2 linked regions of the Homo sapiens genome follow. The gene in region 2 interacts genetically with the main gene of each other region. Each region holds a gene or a part of one and is shown on either strand. Other genes may lie near its edges. The genes, in order: ING3 and KDM5A.

Evidence for each region.
Region 1: changes in KDM5A (region 2) and ING3 together harm fitness more than expected from each alone (negative genetic interaction), as found in Homo sapiens cells (one large-scale study listed by BioGRID).

The regions. Positions count from the first base shown.
Region 1 is NC_000007.14:120,970,959-120,974,786, reverse strand, and holds part of ING3 (inhibitor of growth protein 3), read right to left. Parts: intron 3,587-3,828; exon of another isoform or gene 3,442-3,586; intron 1,583-3,441; coding exon 1,544-1,582; intron 60-1,543; coding exon 1-59. UniProt on the Homo sapiens protein: Component of the NuA4 histone acetyltransferase (HAT) complex which is involved in transcriptional activation of select genes principally by acetylation of nucleosomal histones H4 and H2A.
Region 2 is NC_000012.12:302,206-306,033, forward strand, and holds part of KDM5A (lysine-specific demethylase 5A), read right to left. Parts: intron 1-3,828. UniProt on the Homo sapiens protein: Histone demethylase that specifically demethylates 'Lys-4' of histone H3, thereby playing a central role in histone code. Does not demethylate histone H3 'Lys-9', H3 'Lys-27', H3 'Lys-36', H3 'Lys-79' or H4 'Lys-20'.

The sequences.
Region 1 (3,828 bases), on a different chromosome or scaffold from region 2:
TTGCCTTTTGGTGCCTCTGTCAATCCAACGCAGCCATAATGGAACCATTCTATAGGGCACTAGAAAGCAAAATTGCAAAAAACAAGTTTTCAGTACTTCTGAAGACAAGAGAGTATATTAAAATATGCTCAGGAGACTGAATAATCCATTTAATTTAACAATAATTAGATGTGTGACATCAGAATTTTTAGATCTAGATTATTTAGACATCATTTAGACTAAATGATAAGCTTCAGGAATGAGGAAATGAAGGCACAGAAAAATTATGCATCTTCAAGAATCCTGAGGTCCATGTAATCTAGTCCCCTCATCCTAATGAATGAAAATTCACTAGTTTTCAGCTTTCAAGGGCAAAAAGAAGTGGGATGAATCTTCTATGTAGAAGGTAAATATAACTTAAGATTTTATTTAATAGTCAGCCTTATTTGCTGTCTCATAAAGTAGAATAAGCTGATTGTAATTAAAGACATTAATTTATGTCTTATGCCCTGCATTTCCTACGTGGGTGTTTCTATTCCTTGAAATGTAGAGAAAAATTATTCCTCTTTGAAACATATTAAGCAGAAAACTCTTTCATGAAAGTCTTAGCACTCAGAAGAGCACAACTGGGAATAAGAAGAATCAGAGAAGCATGATGCTGGTACTCATAGAAATCTCATTCATCATTTTCACTAACTGCCCCAGAAGAGTTTACAGTGATGTTCTTGAAATGGTTGGGCAATATTGTTTTTGCAACAACCACAAACAGCCTACAAGGGATTCTAGACAGGGAAACAGAAGGAGGCTCTGTCCCAATCTACGTGAGCATGTTGCTGTAACCCTATCAGGTCTAGGAAAAGTACACATTTTAATGCACCTAGCCAGCTCCCTCAATCTTCAGATTGTTTTACAAATTTAAAACTCTTGTTAATCTTAGGATCCTGTCACTACTAAATAAGGAGGGAGTCAAAATTACTAGACAACAATATTCTCAGTATTGAATAAAAAACGTATCTCTAACTAAAATTAAGTCTCCTAAAAACCAAGAATTCCTTCCTTTCAAATTTCCTTTACTTTTTAGATCAGGGGTGGCTCTTATCAGCTGACACCTGCAGAGTACAGGAAAAAATATTATACTCATGAGAGGAAGATAATCTCACATTAGATCCTCAATTATCCCACCCTTCACTTTAGCACGGTGCAGCCTGAAAGAATGAATTGTTTTAAAATTCCATTTCTTCAATGTGATAAATGAACTGGATTCTAGTAAACACAGTATTTTTTAGTAAAGGGAAAGGAGGGTATTTATAATTTTCATACAACATAACACTTCTGAGACAATCTGCACATAAAACCATAAAATTAGCTTTAAAAATTAAAATAGGGAACACATTAAGGGACACTACCCTATTTTGAAGAGGAATATTCTAGCATTAGCATAATATAACTAATATACCTGCAAACCTGTTTTCTTAGACCAAACCATACAGCAAATAAGACAAATATTCAAGTAATAACAACCTGTGATTTTTTTCATTCCTAAATAGAAAAATGTAATACTTACATCTTGGTTATCACATCCCACCATCTCACCATAAGATACCTAGTTAAAAAAAATTAAATGTCTTTATTATGACTATGTAACAAACACCTAGATACCAATTAACTGTTTATGTATGATACTGCTGGAAAATAAAGGGAAATACACTGAATATACAATTACATTGAGAATCAAGGTATAATAATTTTTTCCTGAAATACTCTTTTGGGCAGGGTGGGGCAAGGGTGGGAAGAAATGCACAGGAATTATCTGCCCTTCAGAAGTCTGGAAGAACTTGACATATAAATCACCCGGATGAAGGAGTCATCTTTCTGGGTAGTTCTTATTGTAAAAATTTTAAGTTCCTTTCTTGATTATTTACTTACTGAAAGTTTTTACTTCTTGGGTCACATTAGGTCATTTATATTTTTGCAATTAATAGTCTCCTTCCTTGAAACTTCTAAACTTATCTATTTTATGTCCTTTCTCATTTTTCTTTTGCTCTTCATCACCAGCACTTTAGGGCATAACTTGCTAATTCTTGAGTTCACTGAAGTTCTCAGTGGATTGAATAATTTTTCAGACAGGATTAACTAGATGGCATATCTTCTGATTCTCTGCATGAGTGAAAATATATTTACATGGTCCTATGCAGAGAAATAACTTCTCTGAATATCAAGTTTTTGGGGGCTCTTAATTTTTCCCTGAAAGCTCTACAGACATATTCCATCACCTTCTAGTTTTTTAGTGTTACAGAGGAAAACTCTAGGTTCAGTCTGATTTTGTTCTTTTGCAAGTAATCTACTTTTGTTGTCAGGATACAGGATATGCTTTTCTATCATTTGTACTGAAAAATGTTTATCGGGTGATAGTGGAACAGCTAACAAATTGTTAAAATTTTTAAAAATCAGACTGGCAACTCATACTGTTAGACACAATAATCTGCTGATAGACTAAGTCTTAAATGTGAAGAAACTGAAGCATGCAAAGAACTAGACAAAACCATATAAAAACTAGGAGAAAATATTATACAAGACAATTTTTTGTAGAAAGAAGAGCCAAAGAGAAAGCCCTTCTAAGTATATAATCCATGGCTTGCTTCATAAAAAAAAATTAACAGTCATAACTACATAAAATTAAAATTTTAGAATTATTTTTAAAAAACTAAATCAAGCAAATATTTAGAGTACATAACAAAAACAATAGAAAAATCAGCCGACACCATTAGGAGTCGATTCATAATGTAAAAAACAAAAATGGTCAAAAAATGTCCAACTTCAATAATACTAGTGTATTTAAAACAATCATAATATAAAACTACCAAATTGGTACTTAGTTTTTAAAAGAAAATAATATCCAGTGTTGGACAGGGTTTAGTAAACCGGTATGTTTATTAATTTTTGGTAATAAATTTCTAGAAAATATATTTTGGTGTCTGTCAAATATTTACAGCCTAATTTTATTTCTAAAAGATTATCCAAGAAATTAGATGTATAAAATGGATTACATTTAAAAAATGCCTATCGTAATATTATCCCTAATTTCAAACAAATTAAAACCACTAATATAATCTATAGCTAGGTATTGGTTAAGAAAACTACACTGGATGGCATAAGAGATAACTATGTGAAAATTAAAAATATGATCTTAAAGAAAAATCATGTTCGGTATACCTGATTTAGAGAAAAAAGCCAGTAACAAGAAAGTATACACTGTGGTTCCTACTGACAAACTTATACACACATGCATGTGCAAATCTGCATAGACACGTGTTATGAAATGCAAGCTTATGTCTCAAAATCATATGTTGAAGCCCTAACCCCCAACGTGACTATAATTGGAAACAGGGCCTGTGAGGAGGTGGTAAAGGTTAAATGAGGTCATAGAGTGGGGTCCTACTCTGACAAGGCTGGTGCCCTTATAAGAAAAGACACCAGAGCACACTCTTTCTCCCTCTATCATGTGAGGACCCGGTGAGAAGGCAGCAGTCTCCATCTAGGAAGGGAGCCCTCCTCCAGAACTGAGTCAGTGGACACCTTGATCTTGGACTTCCCAGCCTTCATACCTGTGAGAAAATTATTTTCTGTTGTTTAAGCTACCCAGTCTGTTGTATTTTATTAAGGCAGCCAATGTGCACATGAGGTATATGGTAGTGGTATACCAAAAATGTTTAGTTACAGGTTGTATCTGAGGGCTAGGATTATGGGTAACATTTTTCTTTATACTCAGTATTTACAGCAAATGTCACTTTTGTAAGAAGGGGGAGAAAAGTATACAAATAAAGCAAAGGTATTTTAAGTGAGTTTAAA
Region 2 (3,828 bases):
CATTGCCAAGGCAATCCTAAAGAAATAGAACAAGGCTGGAGGCATCACACTACCTGACTTCAAACTATACTACAAGGCTACAGTAACAAAAACAGCATGGTACTGGTACCAAAACAGATATACAGACCAATAGAACAGAACAGAGGCCTCAGAAATAACACCATACATCTACAACCATCTGATCTTTGACAAACCTGACAAAAAGAAATGGGGAAAGGACTCCCTATTTAATAAATGGTGTTGGGAAAACTGGCTTAGCCATATGCAGAAAGCTGAAACTGGATCCCTTCCTTACACCTCACACAAAAATTAACTCAAGATGGATTAAAGACTTAAAGGTAAGACCTAAAACCACAAAAACCCTAGAAGAAAACCTAGGCAACACCATTCAGGACATGGGCATGGGCAAAGACTTCATGACTACAACAACAAAAGCAATGGCAAAAAAGGCAAAATAGACAAATGGGATCTAATTAAACTAAAGAGCTTCTGCACAGCAAAAGAAACTATCAGCAGAGTGAACAGGCAACCTACGGAATGGGAGAAAATTTTTGCCATCTATCCATCTGACAAAGGGCTAATATCCAGAATCTACAAAGAACTTAAACAAATTTACAAGAAAAAAACCACCCCATCAAAAAGTAGGCGAAGAATATGAACAGACACTTCTCAAAAGAAGACATTTATGCAGCCAACAAACATATGAAAAAATGCTCATCATCACTGTCGCTAGAGAATTGCAAATCAAAACCACAATGAGATACCATCTCACACCAGCTAAAATGGCAATCATTAAAAAGTCAGGAAACAACAGATGCTACAGAGGATGTGGAGAAACACGAATGCTTTTACACTGTTGGTGGGAGTGTCAATTAGTTCAACCATTGTGGAAGACTCTGGCAATTCCTCAAGAATCTAGAACTAGAATTACCATTTGACCCAGCAATCCCATTACTGGGTATATACCCAAAGGATTATAAATCATTCTACTATAGACACATGCACACATATGTTTACTGCAGTGCTGTTCACAACAGCAAAGACTTGGAACCAGCCCAAATGCCCACCAATGATAGAATAGATGAAGAAAATGCAGCACATATATACCATGGAATACTACGTAGCCATAAAAAAAGATGAGTTCGTGTCCTTTGCAGAGACATGGATGAAGCTGGAAACCATCATTCTCAGCAAACTAACACAAGAACAGGAAACCAAACACTGCATGTTCTCACTCATAAGTGGGAGTTGAACAACGAGAACATATGGACACAGGGAGGGGAACATCACACAGCAGGGCCTGTCCAGGGGTGCAGGCCTAGGGGAGGCATAGCATTAGGAGAAATACCTAATGTGGTTGATGGGTGCAGCAAACCACCATGGCACGTGTATACCTATGTAGCAAACCTGTACGTTCTGCACATGTACCCCAGAACTTAAAGTATAATACAAAAAAAATTATGGTTAAGTAATCTACCTTCTATAGTCTACAACCTATAATAACTCCTATACCAACAAGTTAAGGAGGGGAAGATAAATTTAGATGTGACAGCCTAAGGACACAAACCATTTAATCCTCTCTACAGGTTTTCAAACCTAGAATCTTACCAATTGCTCTTAATACAAGTATATGTCTGACTGACAATATATAGATTACAGTAAGTCTTCATGTAATGTCATTGGTAGGTTCTTAGAAACTGCCTTTAAGCAAAAGGAAGTATAGTAGCAGGTCTTTGAATAAAGTTGTTTTCATTTCATTATAACAGTGATGAGGGGGAAAAATAAGTTCAGCTTGCAGATCAGCTTGGTACTGCCCATTAATCTCATTGTTACACTTAAAGTCCTTGCAATGTTAAGTGAGCTCTGATTAGGTCTATGATTCTCCTTGAAATTAGTTTCCACAAGCTCACCTACATAGACACAATCCCAAAAGATGCAGGACAGACTTTGCTTCATTAAATATGTACCTCGTAAGTAATGATTTTCTGGATGGTAACTAAGATAAAATGACTGATTTTATTTTACTAAATAATTACCTACCCCTCCTCCTAAACCAAGAGGGGGCTCTTCCTCAAGCAAGAATACTAAGTTCAAAGTATTTTAAGTTATGAATTTATGGTCACAACAGAGGACATCACACAAAGGAAAAAACCACCAGGTCAAATGCAAATAAACCGGCAAATAAAATTTTCATTATACAATTATCGCTTGCTCTGTGGGAAAATGCTCAAGAGTATAGGCTTTTTTTTTTTTTTTTTTTTCATTCAAAGATATCAACATCAAAGTAAATTGGCAGGGGTATATAGCTCAGTGGTAGAGCATCTGACTGCAAAGTAAATTTGAACTTGAATTACCATAAGTCTTGCCACCATTCTTCTCAGCTGTCAAATACATTGCTAACACTAGAAAATCCATAATCTTATTTTTCTACCCTGCCAATACCCACTACCAAAGAGACAGTAAGCTAAGATTCTCATATAAATTCCTCCACAAAAAGACTACTCCATCCAACCATATGAAACTGCAGTTGTGATCCCTAGTCCTGAAAATCATCAATACTTGTGATGTTTTCATAGGTTACCAGTCTGCTTTCAAGCAAAGCCCATCATGTTAAGCAATTCTAGAAGAGTGGCTGATAGCTAATGTGCTAGAAAGCAACCACCAAAAATATCAAAGGCCTCTAACTAGGGTAAACGGGTGATTCCAGTATTCAAGGAAAAAGCTAATTATACTTGGCATGGGTTGCATTTCTTTTCAGCTGCTCTTAGTCACCCTATATACAACTTCGTAAACAAAGATAGTCATTAACTTCTGGATAACAACGTGCTTAAGAATGTACCGCTGTGTGTGGTATAAGCTAGTGTACCTTTCAGCAGACTGCCAATGAATTCTTCATAATGGGATTTAGCAGTACACTAAGATGATATTCAAGAACTGTACGCAACTGTAATGCCTCTTTTCTTAATAATGGCCCTCAATCAGCCCTTGAAAATCAGTGCAACAAAACTTGGCCATCTGTTCACAAAACTTTCAAAACTGAAAAATAATAATCTACCATATAATAAGATATTTTAATATAAAAAAAGATTATTTGAACAGTCTAATTCAAGTTTCAACTGTTTTCAAGTCTTTAAGTCACATAACTGAAAATTCCCATTTCTATCTTGAGAAAAAATATTTCCCAGCAGAGGAATCTACGAGCGTCTATGATGGATGGTTTTAATTTTATATCCTAGGAGTTTTAATGCTGATGAGATTAATGAGCAGTACCATGCTGATCTGCAAGCTGAAAAGACAAATAAAAGATAGTGAAGGGGTAGGAACAGAATCTCCCCTTGTTCTCTGGAAGCAGCCTTTTGTATCAGAGTAGGAATTCCCAGGTTACAAGAATAGATTCTAAACAAAGCAACTAAGAATCATATAAAACAAGTCAATGGATTGACTGTAATCTGGCAGGGTCTCTGCCTAATCACATTGTTATTACTAGGTTAAAAAGCAAAGGGCTTGCACCTGACAAAAAGGGCTAACGAAAAGCCAACTGGATCCAACACAAAACAAACTTGTCAAAACCTTCTCTTCACCACCAGTAACGTGTCATTACCAAAATAATCACATTGATGGTAAATAATTTGTTGTATCTGCAACTGGAACTCAGCAAATTCTAACCTGGGCCCAAGTATTATATTACCCATCTCCGAATGTGACATTCTATCTAGCACCATCCAGACGAGAAAGCAGAGCAAAAGACTCTAGCAATGGAAGTGTTTTTTTTTTTTTTTTTTTTTTGAGACAAGGTCTTGTGCTGCCCAGGCTGGAGGGCAGTGGTGC